Linked DNA regions of Homo sapiens. The protein of the gene in region 2 interacts with the protein of the main gene of each other region in a pairwise test. Each region holds a gene or a part of one and is shown on either strand. Other genes may lie near its edges. The genes, in order: KIF9, ROPN1, TSNAXIP1, XKR3 and AKAP7.

Region 1 (6,290 bases), about 77 Mb from region 2:
ATATATGCACATTTAGCAAGTTCAGATAGTGCTGAAAAAAAAAAGGAACAAAAAAGAATTTTATTTCCTCTTCCTTTCCTGTTACGTAAATAAAAAGAAAAAATGATTCATGCATAATCTGTTTTTTACATAAGGCAACAATAATGTATATTTTAGCTCATTTCCTTCCAGTCTTTTTTCCTGTGCAGCTTTTTCTTTACATAGTTGAAATGATTCTTATGTCCCTTTTTTCAGTTAAATTATGAGCTCTTGTATGGAAAAAAATAAGGCCGGGTGCAGTGGGTGATGCCTGTAATCCTAGCACTTTGGGAGGCTGAGGTGGGTGGATCACCTGAGATCAGGAGTTTGAGACCAGCCTGGCCAACATAGTGAAACCCCATCTCTACTAAAAATACAAAAAATAAGCTGGGTGTGGTGGCGGGTGCCTGTAATCCCAGCTACTAGGGAGGCTGAGGCAGGAGAATCACTTGAACCCGGGAGGCACTGGTTGCAGTGAGCCAAGATCGTACCATTGCACTCCAACCTGGGCAACAAGAGCAAAACTCCTTCTCAAAAAAAAAAAAGAAAAGAAAAAGAGAAAAATAAGAATTAGCATCCTTACTATACAAAAGCTCTTAGAGCCAGGTGCGGTGGCTCATGCCTGTAATCCCAGCACTTTGAGAGGCTGAGGTGGGTGGATCACCTGAGGTCAGGAGTTCGAGACCAGCTTAGCCAACATGGTGAAACCTCATCTCCACTAACAATACAAAAATTAGGCTGGGCACGGTGGCTCATGCCTGTAATCCCAACACTTTGGGAGGCGGAGGCAGGCGGATCACAAGATCAGGAGATTGAGACCATCCTGGCCAACATGGTGAAACCCCGTCTCTACTACAAATACAAAAATTAGCTGGATGTGGTGGCGCTAACTCCCAACTACTCAGGAGGCTTAGGCAGGAGAATAGCTTGAACCCGGGAGGCAGAGGTTGCAGTGAGCTGAGATTGTGCCACTGCACTCCAGCCTGGCGACAGAGGGAGACTCCATCTCAAAAAAAAAAAAAAAAAAAAAAAAAATTAGCTGGGAGTGGTGGTGGGCACCTGTAATCCCAGCTACTCGGGGGGCTGAGGCAGGAGAATTGCTTGAACCCAGGAGGCAGAGGCTGCAGTGAGCTGAGATTAAGCCATTGCACTCCAGCCTGGGCAATAGAGTAAGACTCCATCTCAAAAAAATAAAATAAAGGCTCTTAGAAACCAGTCAAATGCACTGGCACAGTGGCTCACGCCTGTAATTCCAGCACTTTGGGAGGCCAAGGCGGGTGGATCACTTGAGCTCATGAGTTCAAGACCAGCCTGGGCAACACAGTGAAACCCCACCTCTACCAAAAATACAAAAATTAGCCAGGCATGGGGGCGCATGCCTGTGGTCCCAGCTGCTTGGGAAGCTGAGGTGGGAGAATCACTTGAGCCCAGCAGGTAGAGGTTTCAGTAAGCTGAGATCATGCCACTGCACTCCAACCTGGGTAATAGAGCAACACTCTGTCTCAAAAACAAGAAAAGAAATCAGTCAAGTGTATGTTATTCTTTTAGAAGTCATATAGGCTAGGAACTCTTTATTTTTTTATGCAAGTTCTCGCTGTGTTGCCCAGGCAATGGGCACATGTGCAATGGCTATTCACAGGCATGATCATAGTGCCTTCTCACAACATAGCAACTTACTTCCTCAACGTCAATAGCAGGATCTTTTTTAAAGGGCCAGAAAGACAAGGCAAGGCCAGGCGCGGTGTCTCACACCTGTAATCCCAGAGCTTTGGGAGGCCGGGGCAGGCGGATCACTGGAAGTCAGGAGTTCGAGACCAGCCTGGCCAACATGGTGAAACCCCCTCTCTATTAAAAATACAAAAAAAGAAAGACAAGGCAAGAGGGTACTTCAGAAGGGGGACTGAAGAGTAAAGGTGAATGACCTGCTGTGGTGGCTCATGCCTGTAATCCCAGCACTTTGGGAGGCTAAGGCAGGAGGATTGCTTGAGCTCAGGAGTTTAAGACCAGTCTGAGCAACATGGCGAAACCCTGTCTCTACAAAAAAATATAAAAAATTAGCCTGGCATGGTGGCCTGTACCTGTGATTTTAGCTACCTGGGAGGCTGAGGTAGGAGGATCACTTGAGCCCGGGAGGCAGAAGTTGCAGTGAGCCAACATCACGCCACTGCACTTCAGCCTGGGCAACAGAGTGAGAATGATCTCAAAAAAAAAAAAAAAAAGAAGAAGAAAAATGAAGTGACCCCTTATATTCTTGGTGAGTGTCACTGGATTTGTAGAACAGGCCTGACCATAGACTATAGCCTCACTACTATAAGCTATAGAGGTATGGCCACAGGAGTCTGCTAGGCTTGCTCCACAGCCTCAGGCCTTCCCTCTTCAGCGGGTGCTCTCCTCTCCCCAGGGGGGGCTGTCCCCCACCCTCACTTTGGGGCTTGTTCATAGCACTTCTCATCAGCATTTAAGGAGACATCAGTCTATCCCTCAAGGACCTTTTTCTCCAAGAACAGCCATTTCCACCACACCACCACCCTGTCTCTACAAAAAATTCCTTTTTAAGTATATTCTGGTCATAAGGCCTCCTCCTGTAAATTAGAGGTAAGGGCCTACTGTCCCTTTAAAAATACAAATTACTAGGTCAGGCACAGTGGCTCATGCCTGTAATCCCAGCACTGTAGCAGGCCGAGGCGGGCAGATCTCTTGAACTCATAAGTTCCAGACCAGCCTGGGCACATGGTGAAACCCTGTCTCTACAAAAAATACAAAAATTAGCCAGGTGTGGTAGTGCACGCTGGTAGTCCCAGCTACTCAGGAAGCCGAGGTGGGAGGATGGCTTGGGCCCGGGAGGCAGAGGTTATAGTGAGCCGAGATCGTGCCACCACACTCTAGTATGGGTGACAGACTGAGATGCTCTCCCAAAAAAAAAAAAAAAAAGGAGAACACAAAATAAATAAAAATATAAATTATTATTTTTATAGTAATACATGCTCACTAAAAAAAACCCACAAAACTGTATAAAAAAGATAAAATAACCTATAAACCCCAACCCAGAAGCAACTATTATTAACATCTTATTAGCAGAATTCTGCTTATTTCTTCTATGAATGCTTTTGCATTTCTTAGATCAGCTATAATATGATTTTGGATTCTACATTTCTCTCTGTTATTAAAAACTATGTGTCAGCATTTTCCTGGCTGCCCAATATCCCACTGTATACATAGATCATTCCCAAATTGTTGGACATGCAGGTTGATTCTGATTCAATATTCATAAACATTTTTAAGGCTCTTGATTTTTATTGTCACTTTGCTTTCCAGAAAGCTATACCAATTCACACTTCCCCAGCGGCGGGTGAAAGTGTAGATGTGGACTCCAATTTGACTCCCTTTCTATTAGTTTATAAAAGAGGTTTGCCTGGAAGGCCCAGCTGATCGCAGTGATATGAGACCACTTGTGTAGCTATTGGTATAATTGAAAAATGACCCAAGTGCCTTGTCGTTTTAGTTTTTCGAAATGTTGCCTATGATTCCCTTCCTCTTCAGGGTGAGACCAACAGGATTATAGCCTCCCACACTATGAACAAAAACTCTTCCAGATCACACTGCATTTTCACCATCTACTTAGAGGTAGGTGCAAGCTCTTTGATCAGCCCAGGCGGGGCAGTCAATTCCCACGGGGCCTGCTCAGTCAGAAACTTCTCCCTGTGACAGTCTAACTTCTGCTTGGATGTTTTGTAGGCCCATTCCCGGACCTTATCAGAGGAAAAGTACATCACTTCCAAAATTAACTTGGTGGATCTGGCAGGCTCAGAGAGGCTGGGGAAGTCTGGGGTAAGTGATGGGGGCTGGAGGTTGCTACTCAATAAACCACAAGCCCTTTTTCTGGCACAGTGCCTGCACATCTGGGCCATGACTCATTGGATATTTGTGAACACAGTCCTGAGCTAGGCGAAGTGGGACATGTGGGCTTGCTGGAGGGACAGGATTTGCAAAAAGGGAACGGCTATTACCTGGGGGCGGTTCCTACCTCAGAGGATTTTTGTAAACATTAAATGAGATAGTGCCCTCTACATTCTTAGCAAAGTGCCTGGCACTCAGTGCTCAGTAAATATTCCTTGCTGGTATAGCATTTCTCTGTGTGTGTTTTTGTTGTTGTTGTTTTGAGACACAGTCTCGCCGTGTCTCCCAGGCTGGGGTACAGTAGCACAAATACAGCTCACTGCAGCCTTGACCTCCCAGGCTCAAGTGATCATCCCACTTCAGTGTCTCAAGTATCTGGGACCACAGGTATGCACCACCATGACCAGCTAATTTTTAAATTTTTTTGTAGAGACGGGGTCTCGCTATGTTGCCAAGGCTGAACTTGAACTCCTGGGCTCAAGCGATCCTCCTGCTTTGGCCTCCCAAAGTGCTGGGATTACAAGTGTGAGCCACCACACCTGGCTTCTTTGTGAATGAATATGAGTATTCGTATGAGTATTTGCATGAGTATTTCAAATAAATATTTGTATGAGTGTATTAGCAGAAGTATTAACAAGAGTATTCAGATGAGCATTTGTATGTGCATTCATGAGTGTTTGTGTGAATATTCACAGGATTCTTTGCTCAAATATCTAGACAAGTATTTCAGTACATATTCATATTAGTGTGAATCTTTGAGTGAATGTCCATATGAATATTCATGTAAGCATTCACATTCGCATGAGTATTCACATGAGTGTTCACATGAATATTTCTGAGTTTTGGTATTACCATTATTAGCCCAAGATGGAATACAATCGCATGACATTGAAAGAAGACCCTGGTTCTGGGAAGGAGGCGCTGACCTGACCACAGACTTATAGCATTTCTCCAGACCAGGAAGACTGCTATTCTTAGTGGGGCAGCTGCTTTATTCCATCCAAAGTGGAACTGACCTTTGCTTTGTAGTCTGAGGGCCAAGTCCTGAAGGAAGCCACCTACATCAACAAATCGCTCTCATTCCTGGAGCAGGCCATCATTGCCCTTGGGGACCAGAAGCGGGACCACATCCCCTTTCGGCAGTGCAAGCTCACCCACGCTCTGAAGGACTCGTTAGGTGAGGGGGTACAGTTGCTGCCCAGGGAGGAGGGTCTGTGTCTTTGGGGAGGGACAGGTTTGGCACATCTGCCACTGGTGATGATAGAATTGCTCCCTCCTGGTGGCATGGATTCACCTGCAGCACATTCACAGTGACTTCAGACACCTGGAAAGGCAGAATCAAGCACTGTGCCCAGAACACACTATGCTATTCACTCCTCAGAACCTTCCTTAGGCTTTTTACCTGTGCTAGGAATACCTTCTCTTTTCCTCTTGTCCTGAGGAGACAGCTGGCAGAATCCTTCACAGCCTGAAGACTTGGGGCGAGGGCCTCTCTCCCATGGTGTCTTCCCTTCCCCTGCAGCCTCCTGTACAGAGCAGCGGGGGCTTTGTCTTATCATCCCCATAGCCCTAGGCCTTTGTGTTGAGCCTGACAACACAGTCACTAGTGTCTGATTGTTAACTGAGTGCCACCCTGAGCAAAGCTCCAACTCATACCTCCCTCTCCTGTCCCTGCCCCTCCCTGCCCTGTATCATCTCTCCTCTGCTGTTTTCTCCTGGATCCTCTTTTAGGTACATGTGGTGGCCTCTCTTTCTCTCTTCCCCTTACCTCCCAGCCTCACAGATGTGTGTGTCCTCTCTGACCCTGTCTCAGTTCAGGCTGCTATAAGAAAATACCATAAACTAAGTGGCTTAAACAATAGACATTTATTTCACATAGTTCTGGAGACTGGAAGGTTCAAGATTCAAGTGCCAGCAGATTCAATGCCTAGCGAGGGCCCTCCTCCTGGCTTGCAGATGGCTACCTTCTCGCGTATCCTCACATGGAAAGAAAGAGAGGGTTCTGGTCTCTTTCCTTATAAGGACACTAACCCCATCATGGGGGCCCCACCCTCTGACTTCAACTAAACCAAATTACCTCCCCCTCCCCAAGTCCTCCATCCAGATGCCATCACGTCGGGGTTACAACTTCAACATATGAATTTTATAAGGACAAAAACATTCAGTCTTGACCAGGTGTGGTGGCTCACACCTGTAATCCCAGCATTTTGGGAGGCTGAGACAGGAGGATCGCTTGAGGCCAGGAGTTCAAGACCAGCCTGGGCAACATAGCAAGACCTCATCTCTACTAAAAACAAAAAAAATTAGCCAGGTGTGGTAGTGTGCACCTGTGGTGCGAGCTACTTGGGAGGCTGAGGCAAGAGGATCACTTGAGC
Region 2 (6,290 bases):
TTTTTCTCAAGTAATCCTCAAAATATCCCTATGGGGTAGAATATATTAGCATTATTTCACAGATAATGAAACTAGAAAAGATAACAGAACTTTTGCAATGACATATAATAAGTGACAGAGGCAGGATTTGAATACACATAGTCTGACATGGGAGGTGGCCTGCTAGACATGACAATTCTTTCCTTCTTGAGACTTTCTCTTCCTTTGATAGCATACGCCATTCTTGTGTGTCTATTTTCCTCAGCATTGCTCCTTTGCCTCCTTCCATAATTCCTCTTCCTCCTTCCTTGCTCTGAGGAAGAGTTAGCAATCTTCCCCCAACTCAGGTCTTCAGCATTCTTTCTGTTGCTCTTCTTGGAGAGCTCGCAGCCTCTTCACGGCTTTATCTACGACAAAACTGTGTGGATTGCACTTGTTTTCCCATCTTTGACCTCTCGCCTTGTGCTTCTATTTCATACTTCCCATTGCCTCCAGGACACTTCACTAGAATCCATTGTCCATCTCCCAACTAAATCTCTCTCCCAGGTTCTTCTCTGAACATGATACCACTAATCTCTCAGTCCTTTGGCCTCAAAGTCTGAGAGTCATCCATTTTCTTCAGTCTGCTGAATCTCACTAAATCCCACTATTTCCTTTGAAATGTGTCTTCAATTAATCCCTTTCTATTTCTACTCCTGTGTCTCTGGCTCAGCCCCTTATCACCTATTGTGCAGCCTCCTGACTAGTCTCCCTGTCTCAGGTCATTCTCTGGCCTGTCCTGTTCAGTGTGTCCAGATCTATCTTCCAAGTTGCTTTTTATAGTCAGAGAGCACTGCTCACAAAATGACAATCATATCCTGACTTTCAAGGTTTTCTATGATTTGTACCTATAATTCTAAACTAAAAATTTTCCGCTACTCTTTACCAACACAAATTTCCTATACAGTCTGCTCTGGCCACTTTCCAAAAAAAAAAATTATATATCCAAAGCTTAACACTGTCTCGCCCACTGTTAACAGTAATCTATCCTTCTTTTCTCTCTTCCCCTCAGTATTTTGCTAATTCTAGCCGGCTTACTTGAAGTGCCCTTCTTCTTTCATCTGCTTAAACCCTATACTTCCCCAGGGTTTTTCATACTGTGCCATAGGCCTTCCTAGAAAACTTGGATATCATCAAATATTGTTTGTAGTATGCATATTACCACTCAATCCTCTTCTGCCTTTCATTGCTCTCTAAAGCTGAGCTCCCCACTAGAGGCCATGGCAGAATGGGCTACAGGTGTGCCATGAAAGATTGATGGTTGTAAACTTTTTATAGTAATACAAAATGTACAACCACTTACAAACTTACAACAGTTGAAATTATATTTGGATACTGTTTGGCACAGTCAGTAAACTTCCAGATTTCATTACCTATTGTTTCTGTGCCGAAGGTTTTATGTATAACACCTGCTGCCAGAGACGCCTTTATAGGGCTTTTCCTTTCAACCATCTTGTTAAAACAATCCCTGTACGTTGGATTATTACTTTAATTGCAATGCATTTATTATCAGTGACAATGATAATCTTTATGCATATGTGTTGCAAATACTTAGCTCTACTTTTGATTTAATTTTCTCTTATTTTTCACATTATTTTCTCCTAACAAAGAAGTTATATGATTTTTCTTCATCATCACCATCACCATCATCATCATCATTTGTCCCTAAGAAAACAGTAGATTTTGTTCACTTTTTTTCCCATTGTGACTTGATTTGTTTGTGACTTATTTATTCTTGGCTTTTGATGTTAAACAAATATCCAAAATCTGATACTTAATGGACTTTTGTAATGACTTGTTTGTTTACAAAAATAATAAACATTTGCCTCTAAAAAAATAATAGAAAATAATTTAATGATTTAGTAAAGGAGACTCTAGGCCTTCAGTAAAGTCTTATAAAAATATTTTTTGGCTGGGTGCAGTGGTTCACGCCAGTAAACCCAACACTTTGGGAGGCTGAGGTGGGCGGATCACTTGAGCTCAGTTCAAGACCAGCCTGGGCAACATGGTGAAACCCTGTCTGTACTAAAAATACAAAAATTAGCCGGGCATGGTGGCACATGCCTATAGTCCCAGCTACTCAGGAGGCTGAGTTGGGAGGATGAGGTTGCAATGAGCCAAGATCACACCGCTGTACTCTAGCCTGGGTGACAGAGCAAGACCTTGTCTCAAAAAAAAAAAAAAAAAAAAAAAAAATCAAAATATTTAAATTATACTTGAAATAAATGATATTTATATTTTGTGAAAATCTAGAATTGTAATTACTAAATTAAATAATGTTTCCAAAATTCCCCCTTTACTTACCAAATGCTTAAGTTTTCAAAAATTTCATGTGATTTATTTAAAAATATTCTTAAGGACAGCCATATTTTCTTTGAAAACTGATTTGTTGTAGTCAAAAAGGCCTATAGTCTCCTTAAGTACTTTATATATATTATTTACTTTCCATCATAAAAGGTAATTTAAAATTAAATATTAATAATTTTTATTAATATTATTACAAAAATGGTTTCCAAAGTCCTCAGGGACATACAAAAGTTCCTGAAATGACCACACAGTGGCAGAGGCAAGGCAGCTATTGTGGGGAGCAGGGGTCCCTGATGGAGACTGTGTGTGCTGTTGCACTGGAGGTGGTGTTGAATGGGGGTGGGGTGCTGGCCGGTGCAAGTCCAGGTGACTTCTCTGTGTCCTGCAAGCAGGGGTGGTTGCTTAGGGTGGAGGAGGATCTGCTGTTCTCTGCACAGTGTTAGCACGAGGGAAGGTGTTGGCAGGGGTGGTGCTTGCTGGTTCTGTACCCTCCAAGGCTCTGTCTGCAGTGGCAGTCAGTGGGGGTCAGCAGGGGTGGACTACACTCTTGTGTGCTGGCGGGGCAAGTAAAACAAAACCTGCCTGTGCAGACATGGGCCAGCAAAGTGATGTGGGTAGTTGTTGTGGGCTCAGGGAAGCTGTAGTATGGGGAGGGAAAGTACTGGCTGCAGCATGCAGCCATAGGGGCCACCTTGCTGGAGCTCTCCACTGATCAGGCATGGTCCACCAGTGCAGAAGCTATGGTGTGGACCCCCAAGGCACCTGAGACTGCCCTGTAAGCAGGCATGGCCAGGCTTGTGCCTGGAAGAGGCCAGCAGACCAAGGGGTGCTCAGATCAGACCAGCCCCATCTGATGAACAAGACCGCCCTGCAGAGATCAGGTCCAACAGTTCCCCTACAGCTAAAGTCTCTTATTGGAGCAAGTTGAGCCTAGTGGAATGGCCATCCCTGGCCATGCTGTACTACAAACACTCCCACACCAAACTCTCTGGGGTCCACATCAGCTGGCTTGCTGCCCTACTTCTCTAAGCAGCTCTCCCTGCCACCTCAAGTTTCTGTGGTGACTGAGGGGTCCCCTCCTTCCAGGGTTCCAGTGGACCCTGGTGAGAGCAGGTTGCTCCTTGCTAGTTCAACTCACTCGTTCCCCCAGAGCTGTTGTGGTTCAAAAATGAGCTTCAGTGTATGGTAGCCTGTATGGGGTTCCCAGCTTTCTCCCCCTTCAGCCAAGCTTCTGTGCCTTCCCTCTGTCCACTGTCTGTGCCTTCCCTCTGAAGACATGTTAAAAGCACTCCAGTCATCTCAGTTCCTCTGTGGGAGCTGTTCCACTTGTCTGCGTCTAGTTGGCCATCTTGCCCTCCAATAAAATTTCTTAACCACTCATGTTTTTACATAACTCTGAAAAACGTTTAATGGATCTTCATCTCTTTTCTTATAAAAATTATGCCCTGTCTGACTTTCAAGATCTCCCCAATTTGCCTTATTCGTATTAACTTTCCTTCTTCAACTGTGTTTCACAGAAGCCTGGATCTTTTTCTATCCTGAGACAAACCCATGGCCAAGTCAACACAGCATTTGGATGCCAACAGCAATATTGCTAAGAGCAGTCCTACTTGACCTTGTCCTTTTTTTGAGTAGTAGTTTTTGGCTTTATTAGCAAATTTCCCAAACTTGCTTATATATCATGCTAGTATTACCTCTTGAAAGCATGAGTTCTACATGTTTATTATTTAACAAATGAATAGGTACCTCTTTTGGTTTATCTAAGCCATGCTCATATTTCAAAGATTTCCCTCGTGTTCATTCGCATCATCATCCACAATTCTAGGGACACATGGCTCATTTACAGACTGGCATGTAAACTATGTCCTGTAAAGTTGTGCAACATGGTTCCCTGATTTGGGGACCTGGTGTACACACTTGGGTCACCTTAGCCCTGTCTTATATAAGAGTATGAAAGTCTTTATTAAGAGTAAGTGTCATAATACCCCACACCATTTTCATCTTTTACTTGTCCTTCCTACATTTTTTTTTTTTTAGATGGAGTCTTGCTCTGTCACCCAGGCTGGAATGCAGTGGCATGAGCTTGGCTCACTGCAACTTCCACCTCTTGGGTTCAAGCAATTCTCCTGCCTCAACCTCCTGAATAGCTGGGACTACAGGTGTGTGCTGCCATACCTGGCTAATTTTTGTATTTTTAGTAGAGACGGGTTTTCACCATGTTGGTCAGGCTGACAATCAGGTCAGAAGGACAATCAGAAGTTGTCCTTCCTACTTCTGATTTCATTATAGCATTCCTGTGAGTCAGAGATTTAAAACCTACAAGCAAGGGCTCTGAGGGGGTGAATGCACTATAGTTTCCAATATAAGATTAGGGCTATGTTTCTCTTCAGTTTCCATTACCATTCCTGATGATATTCAGCATTGCACTGGCCTTTTCCAAAGCAAAACATAGGGCTGCTATCCTTCGTAGCTAGTTGTGGCATAACATCTAGAGGGCAGATGAAGCTGTAGTGAAGAAGCACTCTTGACTGTGAGGCAGGAGTCCAGGATTTTGGCCCTGGGTCTATTTATGACTAATTATGTGATCCTTAGGAAATCATTAATCTGACAAAATTTATGTGTTTTATTGGAATTGTGCTGAATACTGGGATACATGAATAAATAAGTCACACACTCTGCTTCATGGAGCTCACAGTCCAGTGGAAGAGAGTGACAGGAAAATCAGTGACTCAAAGAAGGTATAATAAGTGTCAAGAAGCCTGCACTAGATATAGAAGAACAGAAGAAAAACAGAAGAAAAACTCTTGGATGAGGCATCTAACATCTGCAGGTATTAGAAGGAGGTCAGAAAATACTTTTCAAAGAGTGGTGATATCTGAGATATCTGAACTGAGACTTGGAAAAACCTGGTTTGTTCATTGCTGTACTGCAAGCCCTCAGAAGACAGCCGGGTACAGGGCAGGTATTCAGTAAGCATATGTGTACTTATGAGAGTAAGGAGAGAATTTCATGTAGGTAGAAGGACTTAGGCAAAGATGTGGGGTTGTCAGAAACGTGACAAGTTCAGGGAACTGTAATTATGGAGCTCTAAAGTGGACAAAGCAGGAGTGGTTGGGCCTAAGGCTGGAAATATAGCTCAAGGCTTGGGCTTTTGAACTTTTTGTTGAAGGCAATGGGGAACCACTAGAAAATTTAAGCACAAGAGTCACACAATCAGTGTTAGCTTTAGGTCCGGTTATCAATATTTGCCTCTCAGCTCCAAATTCACCTTGTATTGCCTCCTCCACAAAAATTGAACTAGGTCCTTTAACATTTTTTCCCTTGTCAGCTGTCATAAGGATATGCTTTGTTAGGACAGGGCACTGGAAGGACTGGAGGAGGAAGAGGTTTCTCTTAGGAATTTAGGTATGCTCTTCTTGCTAGGCTCCAGGAACTTGTAGTTTCTCCTATGCTGGGATCCTGTAGCACACAGCTTTTCTAGCATCTGTTTCATGCAGTGTGTGATCTTTTGAGTGCCCAACTGCTGGAGTACACAGTGGCTATCAGTGCTCCATGGCTAGCAGTGTCCCCTGGCACCTCTCTTGGGAAGCTCTATAGCAGAGTGCTGTCAGTGAGTTACCTTTTAGTGAATGGCTTCTCTGGTGTTTCAGAGAGTAAATTTTGCCTGCCTGGCACCTCAGCAATTTCTCTGCTCTCCAGTCAGCTGTGGCCATCCCCTATGCACCAAGCTCTGGGAAAGGTTTCTTCCTTGGGTGATCTATCTCAGGGGTAGTGGTTGCCCCTTATATCTGTGATTCCTGTATATTTTAGATCTCTCCTGACATATTAGCCAATCCTTCATTACTCCAATCCCATCATTAACAATTCTTTATATTGAACTTCTCTTGTTAAATTATATGCTCAAAAAATTACTATATGATTTATTTCTCTTTGTTGGACTCTGAAACACGTTGACTGACAGCTGT
Region 3 (6,290 bases), on a different chromosome or scaffold from region 2:
TTCAGGCTAAAGTCTAGAAGCCCAGGAAACTGAGTACCAGGCCTGTCCAGCCCACTGGGAGCCTAGGCTGCCTCAGCTACCAACTGTGTTCCTACAATTCTCAGTTCAACTCAGAAGATACACAGCCCTGCGGGAGGCAGGGACATCTCCCCTCTGAATGGTTATGGAATGAGCAGGTCTTAGGAATGCTGAATGAATGGGGCTTAGGGGTGAGACCAGAGTCTTCCAGCGTCTCAGAGAAGAGAGAAACCCGATTCCCAATTCAGGCTTACCTGGCGACTGGGCTAATGACATGTCCTCCCGCTGGTACCGCAGCTCATTCAGGTCTGCGATGAGGATCTTACAGGCATCTCGCTCACTGAGGTAGTGCAGGTACTCCTCAGCCAAGTTCTTCCTCAGTTTGGTCACCTGGCAAGAAGGTGGCTGTGTGGTCAGGGGCTGCCCCTGGACCCCTGTATGCAGCTGGTCACCCCAGGGAGTGGGCTGGGTTCTGGGGGGCCCCATCAGGGACTGTGAACAGGAAAGGTGAAAGAAGAAGGAGATTGGCCATTTCTGAGAATTCGGCAAGGTGCCAATGTTTCCCCCTGTGGGGAAAGTACTGAGCCTAGCAGCAGGGCAGAGGGTGGAGTTAGCAAGGCTCTGGGGGAAGGTGGTGGCTCAGTGTGTCACTCTCCGTAGAAAGGCAGAGCAGGGTAGGGGGTCACCCTTGTCGTGGAGTTGGCAGGAATTCGGGGACTTGGTCATCATCACACCACTTCCATTCACCTCGCTCTGCAATGAAATCTTCTCCTCATTCTTTTTGTCGATGAGTTTTAGCAAGTTCATCTTCTCTTTCTTGAGCAGGGAGATTTCATATTTCTCCTCAGCTCTCATGGCCAGGATCCTCTCATTGCAGTCCTCATTCACAGTGACAAGCTTGGCCTTCAGGGGCTCCAGAGCCCGAATCTTCTCCCTTTGGTGGGCTAAGCAGAGACAGGTGGGAGAGCTGCTTTGGGGCCATGGAGAACAAACAGCCAGAAGACACCCTAAGGTCATGGGTGAGTGGCTATGTCGCTTGCAAACCCCAAGAATCTCTGCATGCCTTGTTCAAAGCCATGGTCCCTGTTTCAGGCCTTCCTGCACTTGATTTTAAACAAAGGGCAGAGTTCAGATGAAGACCGGGGTCTCTCCTATGTCCTTTCCCCTACAGCCTTAAGTCCTGCAGCTGCACCATGCCCTGCACCTCCTGAGCCTGGCAGGGGAGCCTGCTGACTCCCAGAGGTGCTGACTCTCTCCTGGGGTTCACTCCATTTTCAACAGGGACTGCCCCCCTGTGCTTCTCAATGACAGGTGTTGTCAGGTGCTCTGGGGTGCCCTATCATGGAACAGTCTGTGCAGAATGGCTGAGGGGCCTTGGTGACCTCAAGGCCCAGTTGGTAGCTGCCCCAGCCCTGCTGTGGAGCACCAGAAGGTCGAATAGGATCTTCTCCACCCCTTCCAGGCTGGGACAAGGAGGGGAGCTGCATTCTTTTTTTTTTTTTTTTTTTGCGATGGAGTCTTGTTCTTTTGCCCAGGCTGGAGTGCGGTGGTGTGATCTCAACTCACTGCAACCTCCACCTCCTAGGTTCAAGCAATTCTCCTGCCTCAGTCTCCCAAGTAGCTGGGATTACAGGTGTGTGCCACCATGCGCAGCTAATTTTTTTGTGTTTTTACTAGAGACAGGGTTTCACCATGTTGGCCAGGCTGGTCTCAAACTCCTGACCTCAAGTGATCTACCGCCTCGGCCTCCTAAAGTGCTGGGATTACAGGCGTGAGCCACTACGCCTGGCAGGAGGTGCATTCTTACCCAGCATCCCCTCATACGCATTCTTGATGGAGGATAGTAATGGCTTGTACGTTTTGAAGTCCTCTATGAAGAACTCAAAGATCTCTCTGTAAGGCTGGCAAGAAAAGGGAACCCATCATCTCCTAGCCCACAGCTGCCAACCTTAGTGGGGAACTGTTTTTCTTTTTCTTTTTTCCTGAGACGGAGTGTCGCTCCATCACCCAGGCTGGAGTGCTGTGGTGCAATCTCAGCTCACTGCAACCTCTGCCTCCCAGGTTCAAGTGATTCTCCTGCCTCAGCCTCCTGAGTAGCTGGGATTACAGGCACGCGCCACCACACCTGGCTAATTTTTGTATTTTTAGTAGAGATGAGGTTTCACCATGTTGGCCTGGATGGTCTCGATCTCCTGACCTCGTGATCCACCCACCTCGGCCTCCCAGAGTGCTGGGATTACAGGTGTGAGCCACTGTGCCTGGCACTGTTTTTTTCTTTACTGGGCTTAGCAGTATTCCAGCATGAGGCTGCCAGGTCACTTATATTCAAGTAAATGCCCTAGATACCACCCGGGTACCTCACAGTGCCACGGAGCCTGGGGGGCAGCTCTCTGGAGGCCTGTCCTGATGCTGTCTCTGAGGCCTAGTGGACTGCCATGACCATAGACAGACATCCACTCTGTGCCTGAGCCCCTCTCTGGCTCTCCAGGCAGCCAGCCTCTTGCCTTCTAGACACTGCATCATTGGCCTCTCACTTGTAACCTCTCCCCATCTTAGAGCCTGGTAGATTCAGGAGATTGAAGGTTGTACCCTTGCATCCTGACATGCAAGTAGGGGTGTGGTCTTCTGTCCCATTTGGACACATGGGAGGTTTCTGGAGGCAGCATTGCTCACTGAAATGAGCACAGTCTCCAGAGTCAGCCCTGAGTTTGAAGCCCAGCCCCACTACGCCATAGTGGTATGCTTTCTTCCTTATCTGTTCAGGAGATCGATGTAAGGCCCCAGCCCAGGGCCTTGCACTTGCACATAGCCAGTGCTCAGTAAATGCTTTAGTCAATGACTAAGTCAAAAGGCAGGGATTCTCTGTCATCATCCTTGTTTAAGCAGATTTGGTGATTCTCTCCCTACTATACACTGGTATCTGGGTTGGATCTGATCTCTCTCTCTCTCTCTCTCTCTCTTCCTCCCTCCCTCCTTATGCATCTGTGCTGGTTCCTTAAGCTTGGGGTTGTTGCCACTGGACTGGTAAACACGGTGTGACCCCTGCTTGCCCAACTGCCAGCATTCAGGCTACGTTCACTGATGTCCAGTGGCCCAACCTGGGTACTGGGGATCACAGAGCTGCAGGGACTGGGCACAGCATCCAGGCCACCTGACTCAGGTGAGGAAACTCCAGCCTCAGGAGACTTTTGGATCCACATTGCAGCCTTGCCTGCTCACTGGCGTTTTCTTTTTTTTTTTTTTTTTTTGAGATGGAGTCTCACTCTGTTGCCCAGGCTGGAGTGCAGTGGCGTGAACTTGGCTCACTGCAAGCTCCGCCTCCCAGGTTCATGCCATTCTCCTGCCTCAGCCTCCCGAGCAGCTGGGACTACAGGTGCCTGCCACCACACCTGGCTAATTTTTTTGTATTTTTAGTAGAGACGGGGTTTCACCATGTTAGCCAGGATGGTCTCGATCTCCTGACCTGGTGATCCGCCTGCCTCGGCCTCCCAAACTGCTGGGATTACAGGTGTGAGCCACCGTGCCTGGCCTTCTTTTTTCTGTTGACAGAGTCTCACTCTGTTGCCCAGGCTGTAGTGCAGTGGCATGATCTCGGCTCACTGCAACCTCTGCCGCCTGGGTTCAAGCAATTCTCCTGCCTCAGCCTCCTGAGTAGCTGGGACTACAGGTGTGTACCACCACTGCAGGTTTTGTATTTTTAGTAGAGGCAGGGTTTCACCATGTTGACCAGGCTGGTCTTGAACTCCTGACCTCAAGCGATCCTCCTGCCTCAGCCTCCCGAAGTGCTGGGATTACAGGCATGAGCCACTGTGCCCGGCCTCACTGGCATTTTCATGGGATGTTTCATGCTTCTGTTCAGGGAAGGAGACCCAGGAGAGCTGGGAGAGGTGGGTCTCCCCTGAAGGTCTGAGGTGCTCAGTCCTTGTAGGTGAGGCTTTTTTTTGTTTTTGAGACGGAGTCTCACTCTTGTCGCCCAGGTTGGAGTGCAGTGGTGTGATCTTGTCTCACTGCAACCGCTGCCTCCCGGGTTCAGGGTTCAAGCGATTCTCCTGCCTCAGCCTCCTGAGTAGCTGGGACTACAGGTGCCCACTACCATGCCTGGCTAATTTTTGTACTTTTAGTAGAGACGGGGTTTCGCCATGTTGGCCAGGCTGGTCTTGAACTCCTGACCTCAGGTGGTCCACCCGCCTTGGCCTCCCAAAGTGCTGAGATTACAGGCGTGAGCCACTGTGCCCGGCCGGTAGGTGAAGCTTCTTCCCACCCTTCCCCCGCCCTCCCCAAGTTTCTTCTGTGGCTCTGACCTGCAGCCTTAGTTCCTGGGTGGAATCTGTGCCCAGGTCCAGCAGGAGGAGCTCCTTGCGTAGGTAGTTTTCCAGTTCCTCCAAGTACTGGGGCTTGGCAGTGCGAAAGGGGTGCTGCTGGCAGCTCCTGCAGGGGACAGTGGCTGATATGTGGCCAGCACCCCCACGGGGCCCTTGTGCCCTCAGTCTGGGGCAACACACGCCCCTGCCCTGTCTCCTGGCCCAAAGCCTGGCCCATGCCAGCTCACCCACCATGGGACTGACCCTGGCTTACCCTACTCGCTTCCGGTAGTCATCTGAACAGGGTTTTCGATTTTGCAAAATGGTCTGGCCACTGGTGTATGTGGGCCATGGGGACAGGTGCCCACCCATGGAGAACTGACCAGTCTGCAGGGAGGTACAGGTGGGGTTGCCATGGCAACATTGCTCCCCTTCCTAATGTTTCTCTCCATCTCTCCTCCCCCAGTCCTGACTTTTTTTTTTTGAGACAGTCTTGCTCTGTTGCCCAGGCTGGAGTGTGGTGGCACGATCTTGGCTCACTGCAACCTTCGCCTCCCAGGTTCAAGCTGTTCTCTGCCTCAGCCTCCCGAATAGTTGAGATTACAAGCACCCACCACCACACCCATCTAATTTTTGTATTTTTAGTAGAGACGTGGTTTCACCATCTTGGCCAGGCTGGTCTTGAACTCTTAACCTCGTGATCCACCCACTTTGGCCTCCCAAAGTGCTGGGATTACAGGCGTGAACCACTGTGCCTGGCCAGCCCTGATGTGTTTTACAAACATCTCTCAACATGGTTCATAATTAAGACTGTGGGTTCTTGAGTTAGAGAAGACTCGGGTTAAGTCTCAAATGTCCCTTATTAGCTATGTCACAACTTCTCTGAGCCTTAGTTCTCACGTCTGTAAAATAGGGATGATGGTAGTCTTTGTCACAGTGTATTGATGTGAGGATGCAGTGAGAAAGCATAGTCGGGCGCGGTGGCTCACGCCTGTAATTCCCAGCACTTTCGGAGGCTGAGGTGGGTGGATCACGAGGTCAGGAGATCGAGACTATCCTGGCTAACACGGTGAAACCCCGTCTCTACTAAAAATACAAAAAAAAATTAGGCCGGGCATGGTGGCTCACGCCTGTAATCCCAGCACTTTGCAAGGCCAAGGCGGATGGATCACGAGGTCAGGAGATCGAGACCATCCTGGTTAACACAGTGAAACCCCGTCTCTACTAAAAATACAAAAAATTAGCCGGGCGTGGTGTCGGACACCTGTAGTCCCAGCTACTCTGGAGGCTGAGGCAGGAGAATGGCATGAACCCAGGAGGCGGAGTTTGCAGTGAGCCAAGATTGCGCCACTGCACTCCAGCCTGGCGACAGAGCGAGACTCAGTCTCAAAAAAAAAAAAAAAAAAAAAATTTAGCCAGGTGTGGTGGCATGTGCTTATAGTCCCAGCTACTCAGGAGGCTGAGGCAGGAGAATCCCTTGAACCCGGGAAGCGGAGGTTGCGGTGAGCTGAGATTGCACCATTGCACTCCAGCCTGGACAACAAGAACAAAACTCTGTCTCAAAAAAAAAAAAAAAAAAAGAGGGAAAGCATAATGTGTGCTTCACATGGACCCTGGTACTTGCTAGGAACTCAGTAAAGATTAGCTATTCTGGCCGGGCACAGTGGCTCATGCCCGTAATCCCAGCAGTTTGGGAGGCCAAGATGTGCGACTTTTAGCACTTTGAGGCCAAGGTGGGCAGATCACTTGAGGTCAGGAATTTGAGACCAGCCTGGCCAACATGGTGAAACTCCATCTCTACTAAAAATACAAAAATTAGCCGGGCATGGTGGCACACGCCTGTATTCCCAGTTACTCGGGAGGCTGAGGCAGGAGAATCGCTTGAACTCGGGAGGCAGAGGTTGCAGTGAGCTGGGATCGACCCCTTGCACTCCAGCCACGGGGACAAGAGTGAAACTCCATCTCAAAAAA
Region 4 (6,290 bases), on a different chromosome or scaffold from region 2:
TATTTTAACACATAATTTGGAAGCATTTACATCTAATATGATTACTCTCTTATCTACATAATATCTGATTAGATATCTTTTTATTTACCCAAGATTTTCTGTCTCTGCCTTTGCCGCCTCTCTTTCAGCCTGTTGTTCAATCCCTCTCCCTACCCTGAACCTTTTTTTCTAATTGTATTATTTTTCTTGCAGAAATTTATTTTTTCCTGCTTTTGACATTAATTACCATATTTTTACACTTTCTGTAGTTATTCATTTTTTTGAAAAAATATTCATTTTTCCTGGTTTTGACATTAACTACCATATTTCTACACTTTCTGTAGCTAATCAAAAGGGCCCAGTTAGTTGATATTTTTTTCCTAAAAATGTAAAATGTATTTCTAGCCCCCACAAAAAAAAACCCACACAAATTCCTACGTACCATTTTAATTTTGATATTTGTTTTTGTCCCTGCTAAAAAATAAAAATAATAGGTTTTATACTTCTTTTCCTTTGGCTTTCACTAAGTCTTTAATATTTGCTTAATCTTTGTGAGTTGAAAAATGTATTTTTATTAAATGACAACTTATGTGGAATAATATCCAGTGTAGAATTTATTTTCATATTCTGCCTTTTGGCCCTTCTATACATGTTTTCCTTCTGGTGTATCTTGTAATTTAATATGAAAGTTGTCTACTCTGAGCTCAATTTTTATTAACTTATCTTTCATGTATGGTCATCAGATATAACATGGAATTCCCAGTTGCATTTTCATTTTAAATAAACAATAAATAGCATTTTAGTATAATTATATTCTCAATATTGCAAGGAAGAGACTCATACCAAAAATAAATTATATGTTGTTTGTCAGCAAACTATCAAATTTCAAAATGAAATGTGACATTTACATTTATGTATTTTCCCCCACAACTGGCAAACTTACTTTCAGATCCACTTAGAAAATTACTTATTCTTACTATATTTGTGCTGAATCTACTATACAAGAAACAAAGAAACAAAAATTTGTTTGACTTTTTACTATATGGTTCATTTTTCAATGAGATATAATTCTCTATTTAAAAAATTTATTTTTGTCCTCCTACTCACCTGTTTTGCCTTTAGATTCCATTTATTCATCTCAGAGAACACCAAAACCTACTTATTATGAAGAATCTTTAAATTCAACTTTTTATCCTTGAGTGTTCCCCTTAGTGTGTCTTTTTTGGCTGTTTCTTAGGGCATCGAACGTCCACCAATCAGTTTCTGCTTTTGAGGTAGTTATATCTTGTACGTAATATAAAAAATCTGACCTCAGTCTTGAATATCACATAGGATGGAGGTTGAGATATGAACTTTCCCCTCATGGCTTTGAATAAAAACCTCATTCTGTGTTAGATCCTAGTATCTGTGGTCAATGGCTTTCTATATTGGCTCAAATATTCCAGCTAAATGTCTAAACAACACTTTCTTTAACAAATTATTTAGGCAGGAAGCCAAACCCCACTGGACTCAGAAATGGTCTCTTCCCTGGGAATATATCCACATTTACTCCTCAGTTGACTATTTCAATGAACTATCCAGTTTATCCCAAATTAGTGATATTGGAGTTCAAATCTCACAGATGTTTTCTTTCTTGACAGCCATTTTTATTTTTTTAAAAAGAATATTATATTACACTTTTAATCTTTGGTTTTCATAATATTTGGTTTTGCAACTGCTCACATTGCCCCAGAGAACTAGAAACAAGTGCTTGATTTCAATTGAATTATTTGTTACTTAACAAATAAAACCTATGAAAAGCCATTATTACTATATCCCTTCTGCAGTTGAAAAAGAACATATTTTTGATAATATTTTCTGGAAGCACTGCCAACTTTATTTTTTTTCCAAAGTGTATGGCAGGTATTTCATCTGTTCTTCATTGACCTATATTATTTATATGCTATAAATCATTGGCTTTTTCACATATATTATAAAACTTCTTCGAGATTAATTTTGGTGAAAAGTTTATTCTATAAAATCACTTTATTATAGGTAAATCATATCATTTCATTCTCTGCAATCATACCTCCCCATGTTTTGCTTTATGAGATTTGGTTTGCTTTGTACTTTAAAGCCTTCCTCAAACTTTGACTTCCTAGGACTTCCAGGTACAATGCAACACCCCAGTGTTTCCTCTGAACAACTAAAACACCACGGACATAATGACAAGAAACAAAGACAGACTCTGAAAGGTCTTGTCTAGGGATTTCAGGACTTGAAGAGTGATACTATGGTAAAGATACTGGGTTTTCTTATTGCCTTCCATGTATCCCACATAATGGACTATAGAAGTTTCCAATTCTGAATCTCCAATAGGCACAGACAAAAAGAGCTTCAAGAAAATCCTGTTCTCTCGCAGCCCAAGGACCAGGAGAGGATAACCTAACTACAAACAACTACACAAAACCGTTCTATGGAGAATAACCAAACTACTCCAGACGAACACCACAGAAAAAAAACTACTACTTCAGTTTCTCTGCAGCCATGTACAGAGACAAGCTTCTCCCAGGTCAGTGATGCTCTGATTCCCTCTAAAGTCAGAGGAGGCAGCTAATCTTCTATTTCCCAACCAGCTAAAACAGAGGACAGCATTCCAATTCCAATTCCCTAACCAGTGTCAGCAGAGTCCAATAGCAAGCTGAGCACCCAGGTCCACCCAACAACAATAGTGGTTAAAGAGCCAGATCTAAGTAGAGATGATTGCACTGTGCTTCTTGACTGCTCTTTCCACTACCCTACCCTATTCTGTCAGTGGGCTCCACTGGGGAGTTAAGCATCTACCACCACCCAACCCCCTATCCTCTGAACAGTTGAAATGAATCTAAACTAGTCAGCAATCTGCTATTTCCCTATGCTACAGGTCAGGAGGACCCCAAATTTGCAACAGAATCATCCACAACTGCTCCAAAAAATGTGATATGCTCTGATATACATTAAAAAAAAACAGGTATGGGCTGGCTCTGTATGCTGAAACATATAAAACACTGGTGAAAGAAATCAAAGTAGTAATAAAGAAGGATACATTGTGTTAATGTATTGGAAGACTCAATATGTTGTGTTAATCTTCCCCAGCTTGATCTATATATTTGATGCAATTCCTATCAAAATCTCAAAAAGGATTTTTTGAGATAAAGCAAACTTACATCCTTGGATAGCTAAGACAATTTTGAAAAAGAAGTATATAATGGGAGGAATCTGTCAACAATGTTTTAAAGACTTATTACACAGCCAAAGTAATCATGACAGTGTGGTATTTGCCTAGGGATAGATTCATAAAAAATGTAGAAAAGGAAGCCCAGAAATAGAGTCACACTGATTTGAATATGATGCAATATCTCACAAAGCTGGCAAACACAAATCAGTGGAGGAAAAATAACCTTTTAACAAATTGTGCTAGGGCAAGTGGACATCCATAGGTTAAGGAAAAATAGCCTTAACATAAAACTCACCCTACAGAAATTAATGCAAAATGGTTCATGAACTTCAATGCAATCTGAAATTCTAACACTTTTTAGGAAACTTTAAAAAATAATAAAGAAAATTCAACCCTCTTAGGCGTGGCAAAGAGTTATTGGATTTGATACCAAAAATACAAGCCATGAAAAAAATCTGATAAATTAGATCAAATCAAAACTTAAAACTTCTGCTCTGTGAAATAACTTATGAAGAGACTAGAAAGCCAATGTGCAGATGGAAGAAAGCATATATGAAATGTGTACCCAATTACTATACCTAGGTAAAAATTAATTAGCTAATGAACAAAGGGTACAAAGACATTTCATTAAGAAGGATATAAGCATGGGAAATAAATGCACAAAAAGTCACTGAACATTACTAGCTACATCACTGCATCTATTAAAACACCTACAATTTTAACAAGTAATGACAACACCAAATGCTGGTGAAGATGTAGAAATAACAAGCCACTCATGCGTTGTTTGGTGGCATGTAAAATGGTAGGGTCAGTCCAAAACTGTTTGCCATGCAGCTGTCAGACAACCTTGCAACTCAGTGCAGTTATCCTACAGAAAATAAAACTTACGCAAAAAAACTGTACATGAAGGTATAAGGCAACTCAACTAAGAACATCCCTTGTGTTCTTCAATTGTGAATGTTCAAACAAGCTGTGGTACATTTATACCATGGGTTGCTACTCAGCAATAAAAATGAAATAGACTATTAGCAGGTATAATTGGAAGAATCCCAGGGAGTTAAACTGAGTGAGGAGTCTTGGCAGGGAAGTGTTCCTCCTGTTTCTGCCACACTATGCAACACAGGGAGATGGAAACAGATCTACTGACAAGTAAAATGACATGAATGTTCATACTCCTTTTGCTGGATTCCTTCATATTTAACATGGACCTGGGTGCTGCAGCTTCTCAACTGGTCTCTGGAGCTCTCACAAAGGTATTGTGGTCCAAATATTGTTATTAATTCACTGACTCTGTGAAGGCATGAAGGCCTGACACTTCCTAGTACGCCATCTTGTTGACATACATAGTCTCCATCTCCAGTACACAATACAGAGACCATTCTTTCATTCAATCACTTACTATGCTTACTTAACAAAAAAACAGTTGCATAATATCTAAGAAATGACAGAGTAATCAGGAAATAATTGTGATGACAGGTAAATAATATATTCATTTTTTAAAAAAGATTTGATGTTACCCCTGAAATGTCATGCACAGTTATAGATGAGAAAGCAAACCTAACAGATGCTAGAAATAGGATGACTGTTTCACGATCTCTTGTAAGTTATAACTCCTTCATGAATACCCCTCTTTTGTGATAGAATACCCTTTTTCCCATTTGAAAACTAAAACACAAACTATTATCATCCATAAAACAATTATGACTAAGACAAACAAGATATATGACTGACATAGATTTCAAGTAAATGGAAATATTATACAAAGATGTTAGAGTTAAGTCTTCAACTCTGATGTTATCTGATGCTCAAATTTAAGACTAATAATATTAAGCAATATCTTCATGTTTAAGAGTCACAAATCAGACTTTCAACCCACAATTTAAAAATAAAATGTAATTTTCTATGATAGCATTGACCTTAACTGAAAAAATGTATATATCAAAGCTGTTAAGCAACTTTACTTGCTTTCCTTCTAGAAAGCTCTATTATGACAGTACAGCCAAACTTAAGAAAAATATCAATAGAAAGAATACTTAAAATAATTCTAACAGATTATCTTAAGAGTACTATAGAAGATAAACAAAGCATCTCAAAAATCAGGAGCCTAATTATAAGGAGTATTTTTATTGGTTACTGTGTTTCAAGTACCTGGAAACAGCTGCAACTTTGTACACAAAGTGAATTTGCTTTCCAGGTATATTGGCAATAAACAGGTACAACTGATGAGAATTTTTTTTTTCATTTGTTGAACAGTAATACTCAGCAAGATTTCGAAGGTAAAAAAATAAACACAGCAGAATTTTTTTTTACCTTATTTTTTCTCGCTTCCTTGATGCTAATACAAGAGACAGTGGGAGGGAGTTTCACTGATACGTTCTGCATCAGAATTTAGAATTTCAAAAGATTTTGTTACAAGAATAATCAGAAGAATTAGATTCTAACTCTGTAGGCAGCAGGTATCTAGGAAACCTCGTGCTTCAATTTCATATAAATTGAATTTACACTACATCTTTAAATTTTTTGGACTTCAATATGATTATTTTATGTGAATTTCAGTTCAAACAAACTATGCTATAGCTGTTACATGGAGTTACAGTTTAGTTTTATAACATACTCGTTCTGGGCATTTATTTTTATTATTTTTTGCCACCTAATAAGAAATTTTAAAATCACTATTAAAAACTTTAATAAATACATGACATTCTTACTGTATCTACAAATTAATTTATCAAATGGCTGTGATAGGTGCCACAAAGATATAATAGATCTTATAAAATGACAAAAACTGAAAATGGCAATTTTGTATGTTAATTTTAGACTTTTTTCTTTAATCAAATCTTTGAAAAATGCAATTGACTGTTGAAATAATAAAATATTGTGGTTATATAATTTTAAAAATGCATGTAGCACAGAGGCTGAGAGGGGATAATGGTACATGTTATTTTAGTGTTTTAACATTGTCCATAGAGAAGTGTAATACCTCTTCAAGGTAGGTTGTGGTAAATTTGAGATGTACACTACAAACCTCAAAGCAAGAACTAAAGTAACAGTAACAGCTAAGAAACCAACAAAGGCCATAATAGGAAATTAAAAAAATAAATAAATAATAGAAAAG
Region 5 (6,847 bases), on a different chromosome or scaffold from region 2:
TTTGAAAGTGAAAGGGACAACTTCCTATAACTGCACTCCATCATGTGTCGTCACCATAGTCGAAGTTCCTTAAAAGCCTTGTCTTATTCTCCTTTGATTCCTCCATGCCTAGCACTGAGTTCAGCTCACAATAGGTGCTCAATAAATTTTTACTGAATGAATAAATGTGATAAAGGTAAGTCCACATTTGAGAGTGGTTAGTAAGTCACTAGTAGCTAGTGTAGATAGCTACAATGCAATACAGCTATCTCACTGCCCATGAAAAATAATTCCTGGTATTTAGTGGCAGCCTCAGCACAACACAGATTCTCTCATTTTCACCAGATGAATAAAGGAAAAGTACTAGTATCCCATTTGACATGAAAATAAAAATTAAAGCATAATATAACTTGTTCAACATCATTCTTTACCTTGCTAAATAAAGCATATTAAACTCAAATGCAATGTTACATCAAAATCCACAGGAGTCTAGAACTTGAAATACAAACAACTATCTTCTCTTAAGCTATAGAATAATAGGAATTATTAACTCAACAATTTTTGAGATAGGAATTATTAACTCAAAAAAAAGGAGTGCCACTTTCAAATAAGTCTTGAAAGAACTGCTGGTCATTCTATAGAACAATGTTTCTCAAACCAAATATTTAGAACACTTCCTCCAGTTCTCTAAGCTCTAGTGTTTGGGCAAAGGTTGGTAGATGTGAATTAAATACACCAGTCATAACTACACTTTCTCTTATAGAAGGTATAAATATTTTGCTTTTGGAAAACTGCCTTAAAATAACCAACTCTTAAAGCATTTAAACTCTTTTAAGTTCATTGGGTTGAGTACTTAAAAGTCTCCTACAATTTGTTCTAACCATAGTTAAAATTCTATCTTTTGTATAAATCCAAATAAAAGTTATGCTTCCAAATGCATTAATAACATAAAGATGAGGTGAAGCTGGTAAACTATTAATATGTCTGTTACTACTACTAACAACAGCTAACATTTAAGTGCATGCTTGAAGCCAGGCACAGCTGGAAGCACTGGGAGGAACTCATTTAATCCACACAACCACACTATGGAGAGGTACTATTATGATGCTCATTTTACAAACTAACTGATTAAATAAGTACTTGCTCAAGGGTAAAACTAGTGGGTCTTGGGGCTGGAACTGGAATCCAGTCACTCTATTACCATTATGCCCTTTCTGGCACCACACACTGCCACCTTATTATACACTGACTATAGCAATGTAAACGGAGGCAATCCTTTCAGAAAGCAATCTGGCAATAGACCAGAAGCCACAGAAATATTCTTCCGATGTTCTTCTTACTGCTCTCTGGTTATCTATCATCCATGCTCAAAGATTCACCACAGCTTTATTTAAACAAAAAAGGAAAAGTGGAACAAAACTTAAATGCCTAATAACAAGGAAATGGTACAATAGCCAAGATTTGGAAGCAATTTAAGTGTTGGATAACTAAGGTTATCCAATGGAAAAAGGAAATATGGTACATATATACAATGGAGTACTATTCAGCCATACAAAAGAATAAGATCCTGTCATTTGCAACATGGATGGAACTGGAGATCCTTATGTTAAGTGAAATAAGCCAGGCATAGAAAAACAAACTTTCTATGTTCTCACTTATTTGTGGGAACTAAAATTAAAACATTTGAACTCATGGAGATAGAGAATAGAAGAATGGTTACCAGAGGCTGGGGAGGGTGGTGGAACGGGTGGGGGGAACATGGATGGTGACTGGGTACAATGAAATAGAAACAATGAAAAAAATAGGGAAACAGTTAAACGAAGCATGCTCGCGACAATGACAACTACGAACAATGACTATGAAGAATGCAATGACAGAAAAAAGCTAACAACAAATGCCAAGTTTTTAGAAAGGAGATATAAAATTGCATATGCTCTATGATTTACAATTATGTGGCCAAAGGCTAAACAGTATAAACTGCTTGTAAATGCTGACAACTATATTGAATATATTCATGTTTCTCATTTCTGCTATTCAAACGTTTCAAAATTGAATATTACCTAAGAAAAACAATACATACATTTTAAGTATATTATAAAACCATACCTTTAAATATATGCAAATATTCAAATACAGGTGAAGCAAATGCCTTCATCAAAAACAGGCCAACAGGGTGGGCCGGGTGAGGTGGCTCACACCTGTAATCCCAGCACTTTGGGAGGCCGAGGCAGGTAGATCACGAAGTCAGGAGATAGAGACCATCCTCACTAACACGGTGAAACCCCATCTCTACTAAAAATACAAAAAATTAGCCGGGCGTGGTGGCACACACCTATAGTCCCAGCTACTCGGGAGGCTGAGGCAGGGGAATCGCTTGAAGCTGGGAGGCGGAGGTTGCAGTGAGCCGAGATTGTGCCACTGCACTCCAGCCTGGGCGACAGAGCGAGACTCTTGCCTCTAAAAAAAAAAAAAAGAGAGAGAAAAGGGTATGGAGAGTTCTCCCACTGTCACACAAAATGCAGGTTTCCTAACTGGATAATAAATGACTACTCAATTTTGTGAAGTAAGTCTCTCATCACTCTACTAGGTAAATAGTAAATTTATCCCAGCTGAGCAAGTTGGCTCACACGTGTAATCCCAGCACTCAGAGAAGGACTGCTTGAGCCCAGGAGTTCAAGCCTTGGTGACATGGCAAGACCCCGTCTCTACAAAAAAAAAAATACAAAAATTAGTCAGGCATGTTGGCACAGACCTGTAGTCCCCGCTACTTGGGGAGGCTGAAACAGGAGGTTGGCATGATCCCAGCCGATCTAGGCTGCAGTGAGCCATGATCGCGCCAGTGCACTTCCACCTGAGCCAACAGAGGAAGACCCTGTCTCTAAATACATATATACATATATACATACATACATAAGTACATACATAAATAAGTTTATTCCTAAGAACAACTGGAAAGGGCTAAGGGCATCCATTCTAGTCCTGGCTTAGCTACTAAAAATAGTATTAGCATCTTACACGTTAGTAAATGTTGACAGCTGCGTAGAAATCAACAAGTTACTTGACCTCCAGGCTTTCCTTTCCTCCTCATAAAAAGGGAACAAAAGTAAAATCCAAATTATTAGGGAGAAATGGACAAAACAAGTTAATAGTGTCCGAAAATGGATGAAAGGAGGAAGTAACCTCCACAAACATCTTAAACTTTATGAGTAAGGAAAATATACAGATATGCTAACAGGATCCTGAATTGCAAAGCCACGGCACTTAAACAAGGAACTGGAGTATGGCTCTTTTCTCCTTAACAATTTCCATTCCCATGCATTTCCTAAATGCAAAAACTCACTGTCATCATTCACTTAACAATTGTCAACATATTCACACGATTAACTGCTATTTATATAGTACACTTTAACGTTTTTATGCTTTTTATACTCTTCTATGAGTTTATCCTATGAAACTCTTGCAGAGGAGCACCTTTTCTCTAATTGGTTTGCGGACCCTTTTACCGAAAGTCCACCCCTAACTCGCTCTATCACAAAGTTCAGTTCACAACAAACGCTGACCTAAACTGGAAATTCATTCCGGGCGCTAGTGTAGACTTGGCGCCAGTTTTAAAAGCGGTCATGTCCAAACCTGGCAGAAAATCCTAAATGAGACAGTATGGTGGTTCGGGTGCTTAATATTTGTGATATAAGATAAAATCGAAATTTTACTAGGTTTTGTTTACATTTACCCACATCAACACCGTCGGAAGGAATGTGTACTGGCATGAACTTTGTGCAAAGGGTCACAGGATGAGAAAGGGAGAAAGAAAAGTGAAACTCGGGGATGGGCTCATACCCCCGCCTCCTGTCGGACCCACAATGCGTGCATTAAAACGCTTCGCTACAGGCAGCACTGATGTACACCCCGGTTGCACCGGGCTTCTCGGTGCTACCCTGAGTCCTTTTGGGAAGGAGGGAGACTCGGAGAAGGGCCGGCGCGGGTCAGGCCCTCCCAAAGTTCGAGCGCAGAGCAGGCCCAGGCCCCCGCGGCTCCTGTCGCCCCCGCCCCGGCCCGCTGGACAGCCCGGTCTCACCCGCTTCGGGGCGCTCCATGGTCGCGGCGCATGCGGGCGGCGCGTCTGGGCTGGCGGCAGCGGCGGTGGCGGGCCGCGTCCCGGGGCTGGAGGCGAGGCCGAGGCGGAGGCCAGGGCGGGGCTCGGGGCCTGAGGGCGGTGCGCTGGGCCGGCGCGGGGTCCAGCGACAGGCTGCGGGGGCCCGGGCGGCGGAGGCCAGGCCTGCGGAAGCGCGGAGCTTCCCAAGCCGCAGCCCCCGCGGCAGCGGCAGCAGCGGCGGCGGCAGCCGCAGCAGCCGCAGCACCCGCATGCCAGGCCGGACGCCGGAACAAGCCAGAAGGGGCCGACCCGAGTCGCCGGTGGTACCCGGATTCGGGCGAGAGGCGCGGACGCGCTCGGGCAGGGCGGGGGAAACTAGGGCCGGCGACTGCGGCGTCACGGCAGCCCAGGTCGTCTCGACTCTGCAATGCGACGCTGGGTCTTCGCCTGCCTGCCGAGCCCCGCGGCCTCCGACGGCCTTTGGCAGCCCTCATTTATTTCCCGTGGCGCAGCCTTGCCCCTCCCACGCTTTCAAGGGCGAGATTGGGACTAGGATGAAAGAATTCTCTGGCCTGGTGTCTTTTGAGAATCCATGTGCTTAGTTTTGCAATCAGGGTTCTGATTGCAGAATATTTGGGAAGAGCGAAATGTACAAGAACGAGACCTTGTACTTCTGTATAATGAGATACTTTATTTACCTTACTTTTAAAAACTGCAAATTGTGACAAAGTCTCTAATTTTTAACAATGATGTTATGTTTAGACATTAAGAGGAAACCAGTTGCTGGTTCTTGTAGTATAAGGTACTGCAGTGAGTAAATTGGGAGAAAAAGAAATTTACTTAGTTTAAAAAAATAAAAACCTTTCACTTGAAACGGAATGCTATTGGGATTGGTTTTAGTGCGAAGAAACCAGGGGTTAAGAACATTAGGTGCATCCGTCCACAAATTAGCGCCTTTCGTGAATAATAACACTTCGCTTATGTTGAATGCATCGTAGAATAGGGATGGAAGAAAAGAAGACCCCTACACAGCCACAACAGCTGGCGTAAAGGCTGCACACTAGAAGTCGGCAAACTAGTTACTCTGATTTTCAAATAATTCTAACACGTTGAGTTTCTGATGCCCATTTATGGGCTGGTAGGAAAGTACAACCAGTTCCCCTAATATTTATTTAATGCTTGAGCTCTGTGCTGAGGATGTGCAGGTAAGACAGGTCTTTTACTTATGGAGCTGATCATATAATAGCAGAGAAAGAAACATAAGTAACTGCGGAAATAAAAGCTGCAAAAATGTGGTCCACATTCATAGTGAAGAGGATGAGAATATGCCACCCCAAATATGCCACTTCAGCATAAGGATTATTCTTGAGCTTAAAACAGTTCAGAAACTAAAGACTCAGGAACAACTTTGACCTCCCCCTTTCTGCCTAAAAGCAGGACATAAATTTCCCTTCGTAAAGGTGACATAAATTTTTATTTTTAAAGCTTTACCAGGCCGGGCCCAGTGGCTCACGCTTGTAACCCCAACACTTTGGGAGGTCAAGGCGAGTGGATCACTTGAGTCCAGGAGTTTGAAACCAGCCTGGGCAACATAGCAAAACCCTGTCTCTACCAAAAATACAAAAATTAACCAGACGTGGTGACCCATGCCTGTAATCCCAGCTACTCCAGAGGCTGAGGTGGGAGGATCGCTGGAGCCCAGGAGGTGGAGGTTGCAGTGAGCTGAGATGATGCCATTGCACTCCAGTGTGGACAACAGAGCCAGATCCTGTCTCAAACAAACAAACAAACAACAAAGCTTTACCACTCACCCATACCAGAAAGAGGAGAATGAGTCTTACCTGCATAACAAACCCATACATTTTCTAGTAACCTTCCCATACTGCAAAAAGGCTAAGCCCCCTTTTCCTTTGTCTAGCCTCTCCACACTTTATCATCGTTAAAATGGTATAGAAGCCCCCAGTTCTAACTGCCTCTTCGGGCTTTTAGTTCTTTCCTGTGAAGCATCTATGTGCATGTGTAATAATCCTTTTCTCGTCTTAATCTGTCTTTTGTCAATTTAATTTACACAGTCCAACCTAGTGAACTAAATGGGCAGGAGAAAGATTTTTCTTCCCCTGTGGTGTGTACCAAGAGATATATGGAAGTTTCATTCTCTTACCTAAGCAGAGGTAACAGCCCAAATGCCACATATTTTTCACCACCAGTATTATGAATACAGAGTCTTATCAACACCTACCATGTGGAGGAACATTTTAATTACCCAAGTCTGAAAAAGGAATTTTTCACAGAGCTTCTTTTAGAAATGACAGGGAGAAAGGGAAGTACAAGGTGAACCTTGGACATCTTCTTGTGCCAAAAAGCAAAGACAAATGGGGACTATCAAAAACACAAGGACTAGCGAGAAACAGCTTTCTTTGAGCAAATGGGAGATAATCTGACATCATAAAAGGATAACACCTGTAATTATTGTAACATACTGAATACAAAATCTATATACCCATAATAATACTCAAAAAATGAGGAAGAAAAACTAGTAGGCCACCATTAAAGGTGACAAGTACGCAATTCCTTAGTCTCCTTACTCTAAAAATTAAAGGGAAAGAAAGATTTACCATGACTTTTTAGAAGTAGTAGTATGGGAAAGCTGCTTTGCACAGAAGAATTTTCAATAATAAATATAGGAGACATAAAATAATTGGAAAATTACCATTTTGCCACCACAACTGATAACTGATTGATGCAAAGATCATCAATATATTCTAAAACCATTAC

Evidence for each region.
Region 1: the proteins of ROPN1 (region 2) and KIF9 interact in a two-hybrid assay, tested with the Homo sapiens proteins (one large-scale study listed by BioGRID).
Region 3: the proteins of ROPN1 (region 2) and TSNAXIP1 interact in a two-hybrid assay, tested with the Homo sapiens proteins (one large-scale study listed by BioGRID).
Region 4: the proteins of ROPN1 (region 2) and XKR3 interact in a two-hybrid assay, tested with the Homo sapiens proteins (one large-scale study listed by BioGRID).
Region 5: the proteins of ROPN1 (region 2) and AKAP7 interact in a two-hybrid assay, tested with the Homo sapiens proteins (2 studies listed by BioGRID).

Annotation. Positions count from the first base shown.
Region 1 is NC_000003.12:47,264,532-47,270,821, reverse strand, and holds part of KIF9 (kinesin-like protein KIF9), read left to right. Parts: intron 1-3,558; coding exon 3,559-3,642; intron 3,643-3,753; coding exon 3,754-3,846; intron 3,847-4,944; coding exon 4,945-5,092; intron 5,093-6,290. UniProt on the Homo sapiens protein: Essential for normal male fertility and for progressive motility of spermatozoa.
Region 2 is NC_000003.12:123,983,805-123,990,094, forward strand, and holds part of ROPN1 (ropporin-1A), read right to left. Parts: intron 1-6,290. UniProt on the Homo sapiens protein: Important for male fertility. With ROPN1L, involved in fibrous sheath integrity and sperm motility, plays a role in PKA-dependent signaling processes required for spermatozoa capacitation.
Region 3 is NC_000016.10:67,819,255-67,825,544, reverse strand, and holds part of TSNAXIP1 (translin-associated factor X-interacting protein 1), read right to left. Parts: intron 4,707-6,290; coding exon 4,594-4,706; intron 4,447-4,593; coding exon 4,320-4,446; intron 1,920-4,319; coding exon 1,826-1,919; intron 963-1,825; coding exon 766-962; intron 409-765; coding exon 273-408; intron 1-272. UniProt on the Homo sapiens protein: Possible role in spermatogenesis.
Region 4 is NC_000022.11:16,816,122-16,822,411, forward strand, and holds part of XKR3 (XK-related protein 3), read right to left. Parts: intron 5,579-6,290; exon of another isoform or gene 5,486-5,578; intron 1-5,485.
Region 5 is NC_000006.12:131,132,990-131,139,836, reverse strand, and holds the start of AKAP7 (A-kinase anchoring protein 7), read right to left. Parts: upstream 4,371-6,847; 5' UTR 4,344-4,370; coding exon of another isoform or gene 4,074-4,343; coding exon 4,055-4,073; intron 3,968-4,054; exon of another isoform or gene 2,995-3,967; intron 2,686-2,994; exon of another isoform or gene 2,135-2,685; coding exon of another isoform or gene 2,086-2,134; intron 1-2,085. UniProt on the Homo sapiens protein: Probably targets cAMP-dependent protein kinase (PKA) to the cellular membrane or cytoskeletal structures.